3 linked regions of the Homo sapiens genome follow. The protein of the gene in region 1 interacts with the protein of each later gene in a biochemical or structural test. Each region holds a gene or a part of one and is shown on either strand. Other genes may lie near its edges.

Region 1 (5,556 bases):
TTTTTTTGGAGATGGAGGTCTCACTCTCTTGCCCAGGGTGGAGTGGAGTGTCTGATAACGACTCACCACAGCCGTGACCTCCTAGGCTCAATTGATCCTTCCCCCTCAGCCTCCTGAGTAGCTGGGACCACAGGCACATGCTACCATGCCTGGCTAATTTATTTTGTTTTATTTTTTAAGTAGAGACAGGGTCTCCCTATGTTGCCCAAGCTGGTCTCGAACTCCTGGGCTCAAGTGATCTGTCTGCCTTGGCTTCCCAAAGTGCCGGGATTACAGGTATGAGCTACCACACCCAGCCTCAACTTTTCTTGAAATAATAGTACAGTCTTCTGAGTCTAGAAAACTAATAACCAAAAATATTCTGGGCAAAGGGAAAAAAATCCAACACTTAGAAACCTTACATAAATTAGACCACCAAATGGGTGAGCTAAGCTGTAGACATTTCCATGGCACAGCGTTAGTTATGTTTTTCTGGTTTTAATATTTTTAAAACCTTGTTTTAAAAGTTGTTCTAGGGCCGGATGTGGTGGCTCATGCCTGTAATCCCAGCACTTTGGGAGGCCGAGGTGGGCGGATCACGAGGTCAGGAGATCGAGACCATCCTGGCTAACACGGTGAAACCCTGTCTCTACTAAAAATACAAAAAAATTAGCCAGGCGTGGTGGCGGGTGCCTGTAGTCCCAGCTACTTGGGAGACTGAGGCAGGAGAATGGCGTGAACCCAGGAGGCGGAGCTTGTAGTGAGCCAAGATCGCGCCACTGCACTCCAGCCTGGGCGACAGAGCAAGACTCCATCCAAAAAAAAAAAGTTGATTCTAGGACTCATTACCTGTGAAGCAGTTCAACAGTTGCTGCACCTATCATTTGGTCTCCTAAACACTCAAGACTTAGAAGAGTTCATATCAAATAGTGTTATTGAAGTATGCAGAAATTATATTTCACCCACATCAGTAAGGTCAAATGCCTTATCCTCAGCAATGTGTACCAGGTTGATAGGACATTGCCACAGTCCCACCCTGTCTGATCTATTGGCAATCTTATACAGTCCGATTACATAGTAGAGGTAACGTGGGGTGGGGTCAGGAGCCTGTGCGTGGGTTCCAGCCCACTGGACCCTGCATGGCAGAGACAAGGGGCATGCTCATTAAGGGGAAGGGTACCCCTTGCTATTTACTGTCTTGAAAAATATGCTTCCCTTACTGTTAGTCAGAGTCTTGCTGCTTCAAAACCACATCAGCACAAGAGTGTTTTCTCAGCAGACAACCTCGTGTTTATGCCGTTCTCTACAAACACAGCTATCATTCTTCTTAAAGGGGAAGGCACTGTACTTTGCCTCTGATTCTAAATGGGAATGTTTAAAACCAACCAAGTGCCCGAGTCTAAGGATGTCACGCCAACTTCTACAGCAAGATCGGGACCACTAACGTTACTCTATCACCTTCCATCTTTCTCTCTAACATAACACATGCACACTCTCTCTCTCTCTCTCAGTCTCACTCTCACACTTAGGTTGTTACAAATCCCGCTTTGAAATTCATGTAGTCAGTGAGGTCCTTTGAGGAAGCACAGAAGAGCCACCTCCTCCATGACAAAGTTTATAGCCAGTTGTTCTCACTCATGTGGGCTTCTCCCTGGACTACAGAAGCTCCAGCCCCTCATCATGCTGTGGACTCGCTTTGATGATTGTACTTTAAAGGCCTCAGGGCAGTAGCACTCCTAACCAGAGCTTGGCCTCAGTGCACATTTTAAATGGTGGTTTCCTGGGGGTGCAGAGCAAACAAATCACTTAAGTACATTCAGGGCTTCTGGACAACCAAAATTAACCGATTCAGATGAAGTTATTTCTTCTTTATAGGAAGAAGAAAATCACAAAGGAAATCTTCAAAGGTAAGTAAGATTGATGAAAATAATAGATTACTAGAATAAAAATGTCTTGGTCTTAAAATGTTGTTTTGTCAATGCAGTCTATTTTACCACTCTCTTCAAAATGACTTAAAATTATGCCACTTCTGAAGAAGTGGCTGCTTTATTATTCATTTCATAAACATGGTATTTTTGATTATTAACAAAGAAGTTAGACGTGCTGTGTCACATGTGTATGAGTTTTATGGTAAGGACTTTCCAGTTGTTGTTGTGTTATGTATACAAAGGAATGCTTGTGTTGAGTGGTTTTTGAAAGGTCCATGGAAACCTCTCTTTTCTCATTTAAAGTCTGGGAAAACTCTCTTTTGTATGCTGTGAGATGCTTTATACACTGTATTTAAAAGCTCCACTAAGAGAATTTATTAAAATATTTTCTGGCAGTAGTCCTTGAAGAAGATATATAGTGGTTGATGTGGTTGTTAGTTACACACCAGTTTTTTCCTCCCCAGTTTAATTTCCTCCAGTTTTACTTTTTCATCATTCTCCAAATGAATACATACCGTTTCTACTACATGAAATTTCTTCTCAGGCAATTCAGCATTTCCAGATCGCCTCATCCTTGATTTTCCTCTGAACTTCGAGTCTGTGAATGACTGTCCTCTTCCCATTTGCTCCCTGCCAGATCTCTGCAGCACCTAGCCATGCCTGTGGCACACTTCTGTCCTTCACGCTGTCTTCTCTGGTCTTTCTTGGGTGGTACAGGACAGTACTTGAGAGCTCAGGCTCTAGAGCCAAACTGCCTGGGTTGGTTGGTTGGTTGGTTGGTTGGTTGATTTTTGAAATGGAGTCTCGCTCTGTCTCCCAGGCTGGAGTACAGTGGCACAATCTTGGCTCACTGCAACCTCTGCCCCCTGGGTTCAAGCAATTCTGCATCAGCCTCCCAAGTAGCTGGGATTACAGGCAAACCCCACCATACCCGGCTAATTTTTGTCTTTTAATAGAAACAGAGTTTCGCCATGTTGGCCAGGCTGGTCTCGAATTCCTGACCTCAGGTGATCCACCCGCCTCAGCCTCCCGAAGTGCTGGGATTACAGGCGTGAGCCACTGTGCCCAGCCCAAACTGCCTGGGTTTGAATCGCTTCTGCCTCCTTGGGTAGGTTACTCAACTGCTTTGTGCCTCAGTTTCCTCATCTGTATACAGGACGTATTTTGATTATCTTTTTTTTTTGCAGCTTATGTATGTTAATACACATAATGAAAGCAGCACATGGCACAAAACAAACAGTAAACAGAGTTTAGTCATTACACCCTCCCACCTTCCCCGTTCACAGCAGCAGCCACATCAGTGTTTCCGGTTAGGCTTTGGAGCAACTGTACTTCACCACTCAAGCCATCAACTTTTATGCTTTCAAAAGTAACACATGCTTGTTATAAAATGTAAATATTGGCTGAGGCAGGAAAATTGACCGAACCCGGGAGGCGGAGGTTGCAGTGAACCGAGATTGCGCCACTGCACTACATCCTGGGCGACAGAGTAAGACTCCGTCTCAAAAAAAAAAAAAGATAGATAGATAGATAGATAGTCTCAAAATATCCAAAGTGGAAACTGGATGCGCCCTCCCCACTGTCCCCATGTCCTCTGATTCTGACTGCCCGGTATGTTTCCACCATACTCTCTTCGTTCCACCTGCAAGCGCCTACACATGCTCCAGATGTATCCCGGGTTTTCTCATCATGGTTTTGTTTGCTTTGGCCACTGCTGAGGTTAATGCCTCTGCTTTCTCTGTCTTTATCATCTCTGTTCCACCATATCCATCCATGCCCCAGAGGCACTGAGTTCCCACCCAGGTAGGTGCCACTGATTTAACTCTGAGACAGTTCCTCTGTGGGCAAAAGTGGGAGTTAGATGAGCTATGTCCACAGAAATGTGGAAAGGACCAGGGTGTTGGCATGTGTCCGGCACTTACAGTCCCCAGCGAACAGTGTTCTGAAACTCATCATTAATTCAGCAACTCCTTGAATTGAGAAGAGGGAAATTCATACTTGCTGGAAAGCTCATGACCTTGGGACAAATCAACCCATCCCTACCATTGCCCTTCCTTTCCGGCACTGGATATAGCCAGCTTGTGGTTATTCAAAGCACCACTGGACAGTTTGTAGATTATTTCTAACAACAAAAAGATAACAAGATGGAATGCCTAACGATGTCACTTTTAGCCTGCTGTTTTACCCCGTGGTGCTGACCACATGGACGGGTGCCTTGCCCCCAAGGTGAAGCCAGCTGTCAGCAAAGCTGCCCAGAGCTTTGCTGGTTCTGTGTACCAGCGCACACGGTACAGGGACTTGCTCAGAGCAGACCCCAATTCTGGCCTCATCATCATTAATAGGTCCTATGGAGGAGTGGTCCATACACTCAATCTGGGACCCCTTCCACAGGGCCTGCACTAGTCTAGATCCCTAGGTTTAAGCCTGTGCTTTGTGGGGTGAAAGGAGTATCAGTATGTCCTGTAAGAATCTGGACAGTGAGTCTACAGACACCTCATCGCCCCATCCCACCCCAGCTGGAGGGATTCCAGGCCAAAGAGGTTCTGTTGCCTGAGCCAGCAGGCACAGGCAGCCCCAGCCCCGTTCCTGACCACCACTTCTTTGCCCTGGTGGTAGTCGTGCCCGAGCACTCCGGCCACTTTCTGTCTTAGCCTGGAAGCATTGCTGGCACCCCTGCAGCACCTGCCAGGCATGTGAGAGGCATTCAGCGAACTCATGGCAAATTGAAAGTGCTAACACATGGAAGAATCCACACCAAATCTGTGTCCATCAGGTGGCAGCTTGCCAAAACCTGGCCATCGCCGTGGCTCACCGTCTTCACCCTTCAGCTGTGGTCCGAGTGAGTCTCCTGAGAATTCTCACTGAGGCACTGAGGCCTCAAGTGATTCTCCTGTCTTGGCCTCCCAAAGTGTTGGGATTACGGGTGTGAGCCAGAGTTGGTTGTATTAAATTCTGACCAATGCAAGGCTTCAGGAACAATTCCAGAGCCACGCAGAGTCCAATAAATGCCCGCAGGGTAAGTCTGTGAGTGCAGCACATGAGCAGCTGACAGTGTTCTCCTGGTGTGGGTGGCAGCGGGTGCCTTCACTGACACTTCTCATGCAGGGCAGGACATGGGTGTTGTGGTGTGTCAGAGGCTCCCTGGCAGGTACTGACACCCTCTTTTCTGCTTTTCCCAGGGCGGTGTCCGTGTCCTCCATGTCTGAGTTCCAGCGTCTAATGGACATCTCCCCCTTCCTGCCTGAGAAGGGCCTGCCGTCCACCAGCAGCAAGGAGGATGTCACCCCACCCCTGTCTCCAGACGACCTCAAGTACATCGAGGAGTTCAACAAGAGCTGGGACTACACACCCAACAGGGGCCACAATGGTGGGGGGCCGGACCTTTGGGCCGACAGGACCGAGGTGGGGCGGGCAGGGCACGAGGACAGCACAGAGCCTTTCCCCGACTCCTCCTGGTACCTAACCACAAGTGTCACCATGACCACGGACACCATGACCAGCCCAGAGCACTGCCAGAAGCAGCCACTGCGGAGCCACGTCCTCACCGAGCAGTCGGGGTTGCGCGTGTTACACAGCCCGCCTGCCGTGCGCAGGGTCGACAGCATCACGGCGGCAGGTGGTGAGGGTCCCTTTCCCACAAGCAGAGCCA
Region 2 (4,284 bases), on another chromosome or scaffold:
ATGGGACAGTGATGCCAGGCCTGTGATTGACATGGGTCTGGCACACTTAAGAATCAGTGACGGTGGCTCACGCCTGTAATCCCAGCACTTTGGGAGGCCAAGGTGGGCGGATCCTGAGGTCAGGAGATGGAGACCATCCTGGCTAACATGGTGAAACCCCATCTCTACTAAAAATACAAAAAATTAGCCGGGCATGGTGGCGGGCGCCCGTAGTCCCTGCTACTCAGGAGGCTGAGGCAGGAGAATGGCGTGAACCCGGGAGGCGGAGCTTGCAGTGAGCTGAGATTGCGCCACTGCACTCCAGCCTAGGCGACAGAGCGAGACTCTGTCACAAAGAAAAAAAGAACCGGTGCCATGTAAGACGTGGTTCCAGCCTCCGCCCCACCATGCGAGGGGTCGGCCAGGCAGCCGTGCGGAGGACAACCCCAAGAGTGAGATGTCAGAGCTTGCAGCTGGCCCCTCCCAACATTGTGAGGAGCAGAAGGATCCAGCTAACACGCTGTGTCTAGAGAAAGGATCCCGTGCTGTTTCAGGTAGATTTGGGGTGATTTGTTACACAGCAGCAGCCGGCGGAGGAGACACATCCCCGGCCCCATCCATGTTGGGGGTGTCAGGGCCAGAACTCGAGATGGCGGCCTCTGGGGCCTGCAGCCCTCGCATCTGAAGCTGGGGCCCGCAGTGCACACGGCCTGTCTTCTTCTGCGCCCATTGCCAGGTTGAAGGGTGATTCAAGAAGAAGGGGCCGCTCTCAGGGTACCACTGGGCAGAACCTGGGAGACTGAGGCTGCTGATGCCCCTCAGCTCCAAGGGGCGGGGTGGCAGGGAGGCGACTGTGGAGGGCTGGGCAGTCGGCCTCTCTGGGCTCCAGGCTCTGTCCCTGTAGGAGGATGTGGGGAACCAGGTGAGCGGCTCCTCAGGCCATGCCCTGTGTGGCTGGACACCAAGTATCATGCACCCCAGGAAGGGGCTGCCGGGGGCGGGAGGACTGATACGTCCCTCCCGGCAGCCCAGGCCTGCGTCCTGTGGCCGCATCTCCCTGACCTCAGCAGCCCCTCCCAGGGCCCAGCCCCGAGACACTAAACACACCGTCTTTTTCAGGGAGCACTCGGGGCCCCCTTCCCTACCTCCCTGGTTGTGACCCGAGGCTTCAGGTCTGATGGCAGTTTCCACCGCAGGAGGGACCACCTGCCCCAACTTTCAGCCTACAGACAGGTGGGAGAAAAGTCTGGGGTGCAAGCCGCTCTGTGGGAGGCCAGGGAACGAGTGTGGGGTTATTTCCAAGTCGGGAGGGCTGCATCTTGAGGTCTGGAATGAGGTACTTCCCGTTCCTTCTCCCGGGCTTCCCGTTTCCGGGGTCTCCCCACGGGCTGTGCCTTGAGACACATTCCGGCCCCCAGCGCAGGCCTCTCTCAGCCGCCAGCCTGGGAGAGGATGAGCTCTTCTTGCCTGTCCACCCGGGCCTCCCTGTCAGCCCCTCCACCTACTGGACACAACTTTCCAGAATAAAAGGACATCTCTGGCACCAAGCAAGGGTATCTGACAGCAATAGATTTATTAAGTATCCCCGAAAATATAAACACAAACCAGTAAAAAACAAAACCGTAAAACGTCAGGCCTGGAGCTGCAATAAGACAGAGACAGGAGCAGCTCACACGTGGCCTAGGTGGGGAGGACGAGGCCATAAATACTGCAGGAGGGCGGCAAGGGAGCCCTAGGGCGAGGGGAAAGCAGGGTGTCGGCAGCAAGATGGCTCCGGGGGTTTAGACACTGCTGGCTTCGGCCCCGGCCGCCACCTGCCTCTCACTCCAGCTGCGAGCAGCTTCACTTGGGGCCCTGGGCCTCCGACTCCTCCTCGTCGTCTTCGTACATCTCGCCCTCTTCCTCGGCCGTGGCGTCCTGGTACTGCTGGTACTCGGACACCAGGTCGTTCATGTTGCTCTCGGCCTCGGTGAACTCCATCTCGTCCATGCCCTCGCCCGTGTACCAGTGCAGGAAGGCCTTGCGCCGGAACATGGCCGTGAACTGCTCGGAGATGCGCTTGAACAGCTCCTGGATGGCCGTGCTGTTCCCGATGAAGGTGGAGGACATCTTGAGGCCGCGGGGCGGGATGTCACACACGGCCACCTTCACGTTGTTGGGGATCCACTCCACGAAGTAGCTGCTGTTCTTGCTCTGGATGGCCAGCATCTGCTCGTCCACCTCCTTCATGGACATGCGGCCCCGGAACACGGTGGCCACCGTCAGGTAGCGGCCGTGGCGCGGGTCGCAGGCGGCCATCATGTTCTTGGCATCGAACATCTGCTGGGTGAGCTCGGGCACGGTCAGGGCCCGGTACTGCTGGCTGCCCCGGGCTGTGAGGGGGGCGAAGCCGGGCATGAAGAAGTGCAGGCGCGGGAAGGGCACCATGTTGACGGCCAGCTTGCGCAGGTCAGCGTTGAGCTGGCCCGGGAAGCGCAAGGAGGTGGTGACTCCGCTCATGGTGGCCGATACCAGGTGGTTGAGGTCCCCGTAGGTGGGCGTGGCCAGCTTGAGGGTGCGGAAGCAGATGTCGTAGAGCGCCTCGTTGTCGATGCAGTAGGTCTCATCCGTGTTCTCCACCAGCTGGTGGATGGACAGCGTGGCGTTGTAGGGCTCCACCACCGTGTCTGACACCTTGGGTGAGGGCACGACGCTGAAGGTGTTCATGATGCGGTCGGGATACTCCTCACGCACCTTGCTGATGAGCAACGTGCCCATGCCGGAGCCCGTGCCGCCCCCCAGCGAGTGGGTCAGCTGGAAGCCCTGCAGGCAGTCGCAGTTTTCACACTCCTTCCGCACCACATCCAGGACCGAATCCACCAGCTCCGCCCCCTCCGTGTAGTGACCCTTGGCCCAGTTGTTGCCGGCCCCACTCTGACCTGTACAGGGAGAAGAGGGGTAAGAGACAGGGGCCAGGGACTCTGCAGTCCAGACCTCCAGCCCCTGCCTGAACATCCCAAGGGCAGCCGTGGCAGCCCCATGCCTGTTCTGTCTTCTGTAAAGTAGGCCCCACTGAGCACCCCTTCTCATACCCGCCGTGGCTTCCCTGAGCCGATGCTGCTGAGTGCTCAGGACGAGGGCTCTGGACAGAGTCTTGAGAACTTGGGGTCACAGCAGAGCGAGGCTCTGCCTCCTGAGGGGATCCTGGGTGAATGGATCAGCCCTCCTGCTCCAGCATACCTTCCTTCCGACTGGCAGTGCCAGGAGCCCAAACAGCCACCCCAGAATCCCTGGCAGCTGGGGGCTGGATGCGAGTTGGCATCTACCAGCTGGATGTGCTGCGGTCGGGAAGGCAGAAGTGAAGCGAGGCCCTCCTGTTTCTGTGGCGCGTCCACGGCCCCGCCCCAGGACACAGACATGGGAACGTGGCATCCACGGCCCCGCCCCAGGACACAGGCATGGGAACGTGGCATCCACGGCCCCGCCCCAGGACACAGGCATGGGAACGTGGCATCCACGGCCCCGCCCCAGGACACAGGCGTGGGAACGTGGCATCCACGGCCCCGCCCCAGGACACAGGCGTGGGAACGTGGCATCCACGGCCCCGCCCCAGGACACAGACGTGGGAACGTGGCATCCACGGCCCCGCCCCAGGACACAGACGTGGGAACGTGGCATCCACGGCCCCGCCCCAGGACACAGACATGGGAACGTGGCATCCACGGCCCAACCCCAGGACACAGGCATGGGAACGTCCTGATCTCTTGACCGCAGCAAGGCCTCGTGCTCCTGGACCCCGGAGTCCTCTGGAGGCCCCGTTCTGTCTCACCAGCTCTCTAGCAATTCTGTAAGCTTCTGTCTGCTTTACACTTCATTCCACTTGAAATGCATGAGTGGTTTCTGTTCTCCCCACAGAACCCTTTCTCTGGGCCTCCAATGCCCAGCTGTAAAATGGAGAGATGAGTTCCCACCATTCAGGATCATGTGAGGAGCTGACCATTCCTTGTTTCTCACAGCCGTCCCCGTCCACCGACCTGGGCTTGCCTGTGATGGGGTCTGCCATCAGAGCTTGGAGCAGGGGGAACTTACCAAAGATGAAATTGTCAGGCCTGAAGAGATGTCCAAAGGCCCCTGAGCGGACACTGTCCATGGTTCCGGGTTCCAGGTCCACCAGAATGGCTCGAGGCACGTACTTGTGAGCTGAGGGGAGAGAGGGGCTCGGTGATTCGGGTCACAGAGGGCCAGAGCCTCTCCCTCATTCTTTCTGAATTCTGTGCCCGCCTGCCATCCTCCTGCTCACATCCTAAGAGCCTGTACTCTGAAGTC
Region 3 (4,528 bases), on another chromosome or scaffold:
CTCAGGGTAGCCAGTCACTGTATCGATTTAATATTAAGTCTCATTCCAGTAAAAGCAGGGACTTTGGAAAACCTTGGATGCACCTATTCCAGACAGATTCCTGTATTCTTTTTTTTTTTTTTTTTTGAGATAGAGTCTCGTTCTGTCGCCAGGCTGGAGTGCAGTGGCACAATCTTGGCTCACTGCAATCTCCGCCTCCTGGGTTCAAGCGATTCCCCTGCCTCAGCCTCCTGAGTAGCTGGGACTACAGGCACACACCGCCACGCCCGGCTAATTTTTTGGATTTTAGTAGAGACAGCGTTTCACCATGTTGTCCAGGATGGTCTCAGTCTCCTGTCCTCGTGATCCGGCCTCCCAAAGTGCTGGGATTACAGGTGTGAGCCACTGCGCCGGGCCTGATTCCTGTATTCTTTAAAACGGGAAAAAAGACAAGCAGCAGCTCCTCAGGTCACAAGGCCAGGTATATCAAACACTGGCCTCCGAGAATAGATCATGCCACCAAGTGAAAGAAACCTCTTCTTGGTCCTGTTGTGATTTTAGATAAAGTAGTCATGGAAGCTTGGTCATTACTATAGTCTTAATGTTATTTTTTTTAAAAAGGGGATTTAGTTGGGCTGATTTCCTCCCCTAAAGGTCCTCTGTCACCTTATTTAAATTTAAAACTGGTTTTACCAGAAAATAGGTAAACAAACACCACTGGTTGTCTCCAGTCTCTTTTCTTGCTCTTCCTCTCCCTCTTCTTTAAAAATGTGGCTGATGAGAACCTGTTTCCAGGAGCCCTTTAATCACTCTGAAACACACAGACACTGAAAATGTTGAAGCATAAAAATAAACCTTGCGTTACAGGGAGATTGCCTGTGTGCTGTCCACTTCGCTTATAACAGTGAAAGTAGGAGATTAAAAAAAAAAAAAAGTTAAGCCCTGTCTTTAAGATGGTTTTTGTGACACCTGATTCCAGATGTGCTTTTTCACAGCCATAGACTTCCTGCTTTTGCAGAAGGAGGGTTCTAATCTGGGGCTCGTAGCTTGGGGGATTCTTAGTTTGTGAGCTGAGCTTTTTGTTCACTTCTTTTCCAAATGACTCTGCTGGCCTGAAGCTTGGCAGTTGTGAAAGCAATCAGCAAGATGACTGTTTGTCTTCCAGCCAGCAGCAGCAGTCACAGGCAAGCCTGGAGAAAGGTCCAGCTTCCAGAGTTCACCTGCTAGAGTTTTCCATAACACCTGGGGGAGAGGCTACTCCATCTGGGACCTGCCCCACCTCTGGGCCTCAGAAACTATGAGAGAGGGATTGAGAGAAAACTTGCCCCACTTCTGCTGCAGTGGGAAGGGAGGGGGCTGCTGTCAGGCTTCTAGGCAGTGAGCGGCATTGTTTATTCTCTCAGTTCTAGGAAGGGGAGTTTAGAAGTACTGGTGAAGAAAACAAAGTTACAAGATCCTATAAGGAACAGCTGAACTACTCCAAACACTCTCACTGGACCCCCATTGTTGATTCTGGATAAAAATATATATATATATAAAACTCTTTTTTTTTTTGACACAGAGTCTTGCTCTGTCGCCCAGGCTGGAGTGTAGCGATGCGATCTCGGCTCACTGCAACCTCCGCCTCCCGGGTCAAGCGATTCTCCTGCCTCAGCCTCCTGGGAGTAGCTGGGACTACAGGCGCCCACCACCATGCTGGCTAATTTTTGTATTTTTAGTAGAGACGGGGTTTTGCCATATTGGCCAAGCTGGTCTCGATCTCCTGACCTCAGGTGATCTGCTGGATAAATATTTTTTTTTTGCTTTTGGTGTAACTTAGGTAGATTGGATCGGCTAGCTAGCATCTCAGTCCACACTCTGAGCTGTGCAGCAGTGTGCCCTGGTGCTAATTCTCACTCTGTCCTTTGATTCTGGCCAGGGGGTCCTTGGTGGTGCTGCCTTCTGGTCAGGAATGTGGGTGAATGTCAGACCAAATAGTGTCACTTTCGGCTTGGCCCTAGAGATCAGGAAGGAAGTGTTGTTAGAGCAAGGGCTTTGGGAGTCCTTGGAGTTCGTAACCTTTGAATCTGAAAAGTAACTGTACCTAGTAAATTAGAATAATTTCTCTCTGGTCAGGCACCATGGCTCATGCCTGTAGTCCTAGCACTTTGGGAAGCCAAGGCAGGAGGATTGCTTGAGGCCAGGAGTTCAAGACCAGCCTGATCAATAAAGTGAGACTCCATCTCTACAAAAAAATTTTTTTAAATTTAGCTGGGCATGGTGGCACATGCCTGTGGTTGCAGCTACACAGAAGGCTGAGGCAGGAGGATGGCTTGAGCTGGGGAGGTCGAGACTGCATTGAGCTGTGTTTGTGCCACTGCACTTCAGCCTGGGTGACAGAGCAAGACACTATCTCAGAAAAAAAAAATTACTTTTCTCCAATTTATGGACTTCGGAAAGTAGCTAAACAGATGGATATAAGACAGTTGTTGAAACTCGGCCTGCTGCAGATTAAAATAAAGTTTGCACAAGGATAACTTAATCTTTCAGACCAACCAAAGTTTGGGCTGGAGATTTTTCTCAGCATAAATGTCCTAAGCAGAGTTGGTGCCTATGAGGTAGGAAAAGATTGAGACTTTGCTTGCCTAAGAGGTTTGCAGGGTTCGAGCTTTTGGGAGTCAGAACTTCTCAGACTAGATTGTTTCCCCTTTGGACAGAACAACCCAATTCTCAGTGGGCATTTGATCAGGACTAACCCAGGCCTTCATGAACTCTTTCCCATTGAGCACTTAGCCACCTGGCTGGCATTTCTCTTCTCCCAGGAGCTTCCATGAGGTTCCTACTTATGTATTATGTCGACTTGAATGAATATTTTATGTCTAGAGTGCAGCCAAGCCTCAGACTTTGTGGCCCATTATCGACAAATGGGGTAGGGGGTGGGCGCCACCTTTGGCCCCGTGATAGCTTCTCTGCTAAATGGACTCCCCCCAGCAGCACTTTGAAGCCCATTAATGGATTGGAATGAAGTAACCTCAGCAGATGGAAAGGGTGAGGAGGGTGGTCATCTTCCTTCCCTGAGACTGCCTGATGAGGCTTTCCTACAGTAACCAGGACAAGCCCCTATTCCCTCTGCTTGGTTAAGCTGTGGACTGGAGCTACTAGGCCTCTGCTTTGAGAGGAAGTATAGAAAGGATTTGATTCTCTTTTAGCCATGGTGGGGCCGCCAGTTTCCCCACTTTCCCATCAAAGCAAAAATTGAGAAGGATGTGGAAAGGGTGGGTGGAGTTTAAAGCTGGCCCTTCCTCCTTCAGTGGAAGTTCAGCAAAATGACAAACCAGATAGGTGGCTAAATTTCCTTCTCTTGATGGGAGATTCCAGTATTTGTACGTTTTGTGCTTGTAGCTTGGATTCTCCAGGCCTCCTCCCAGCTTTCATCAAACATGAGTGAGTCACTGAAGTGTTGTCTATGCATTTTCTCCCTTCTGTCTCTGCAAAGGGAAGAGTAAGCCTTTACAAACCTGTGGGGGAGGAAGTCACCCTCTTCCCACTGCTGGAGAGCCAGGCTATCCCCAGGTTAACCCTGAAAGTGCTAACTCCTGAGCAGAATGTTACTGCCACCCGCCCCCTTCCTTTTTGTTATAGGCCATTGAAGGTCATTGCTCGTCTTTTTTTTTGAGACAGTCTTGCTCTGGTCACCCAGGCTGGAGTGCAGTGGCAGGATCTCAGCTCACTGCAACCTCCACCTACTGGGTTCAAGCGATTCTCATGCCTCAGTCTTCCAAATAACCAGGATTACAGGTGCGCACCTCCATGCCTGGCCACTTTTTGTATTTTTAGTAGAGATAGGGTTTCACCATGTTGGCCAGGCTGGTCTTGAACTCCTGGACTCAAGTGATCCGCCTGCCGTGGCCTCTCAAAGTACTGGGATTACAGGAGTGAGCCACCGCGCCCGGCATCATTGCTTATCTTTTAGACTGAGATAGTACAGCTGATTCTAAACAGCACCCAGAGAGAATCTGGCCTCTTGATTTCCAGTTGTGTCTCAGAGGAGGAGGCATCCCAGTTCCTCCTCTTGCCCTCTAGACATCTCCTCCTCTGATAAGTATAAATAGGCTAGATCCCTTTATCTTCATATCTGTTTTTGTCTGGAATGTTTCAAGTTTCTCAAGCTAGGTGTGGTGGCTCATATCTGTAATCCCAGCACTTCGGGAGGCCACGGCAGGAGGATCACTTGAGCCCAGGAGTTCAAGACCAGCCTGAGCAACATAGTGAGACCTCATTTCTACAAAAAAAAAATTTTTTTTTTGAGACGGAGTCTTGCTCTGTTGCCCAGGCTGGAGTGCAGTGGTGCGATCTCAGCTCACTGCAACCTCCGCCTCCCGGATTCAAGTGATTCTCCTGTCTCAGCCTCTTGAATAGCTGAGATTACAGGTGTACGCCACTGTACCCCGCTAATTTTTGTATTTTTAGTAGAGATGGGGTTTCACCATGTTGGTCAGGCTGGCCTTGAACTCATGACCTCGTGATCTGCCTCAGCCTCCCAAAGTGCTAGGATTATAGGCATGAGTCA

What was found. The genes of interacting proteins can lie anywhere in the genome.
Region 2: the proteins of MTCL1 (region 1) and TUBB3 form a complex in vitro, tested with the Homo sapiens proteins (one study listed by BioGRID).
Region 3: the proteins of MTCL1 (region 1) and MARK2 form a complex in vitro, tested with the Homo sapiens proteins (one study listed by BioGRID).

Annotation. Positions count from the first base shown.
Region 1 is NC_000018.10:8,819,613-8,825,168, forward strand, and holds part of MTCL1 (microtubule cross-linking factor 1), read left to right. Parts: intron 1-1,854; coding exon 1,855-1,886; intron 1,887-4,558; coding exon of another isoform or gene 4,559-4,604; exon of another isoform or gene 4,605-4,746; intron 4,747-5,086; coding exon 5,087-5,556. UniProt on the Homo sapiens protein: Microtubule-associated factor involved in the late phase of epithelial polarization and microtubule dynamics regulation.
Region 2 is NC_000016.10:89,933,342-89,937,625, reverse strand, and holds the end of TUBB3 (tubulin beta-3 chain), read right to left. Parts: intron 4,159-4,284; coding exon 4,048-4,158; intron 2,898-4,047; coding exon 1,822-2,897; 3' UTR 1,529-1,821; downstream 1-1,528. UniProt on the Homo sapiens protein: Tubulin is the major constituent of microtubules, protein filaments consisting of alpha- and beta-tubulin heterodimers. Microtubules grow by the addition of GTP-tubulin dimers to the microtubule end, where a stabilizing cap forms.
Region 3 is NC_000011.10:63,842,110-63,846,637, forward strand, and holds part of MARK2 (serine/threonine-protein kinase MARK2), read left to right. Parts: intron 1-4,528. UniProt on the Homo sapiens protein: Serine/threonine-protein kinase. Involved in cell polarity and microtubule dynamics regulation. Phosphorylates CRTC2/TORC2, DCX, HDAC7, KIF13B, MAP2, MAP4 and RAB11FIP2. Phosphorylates the microtubule-associated protein MAPT/TAU.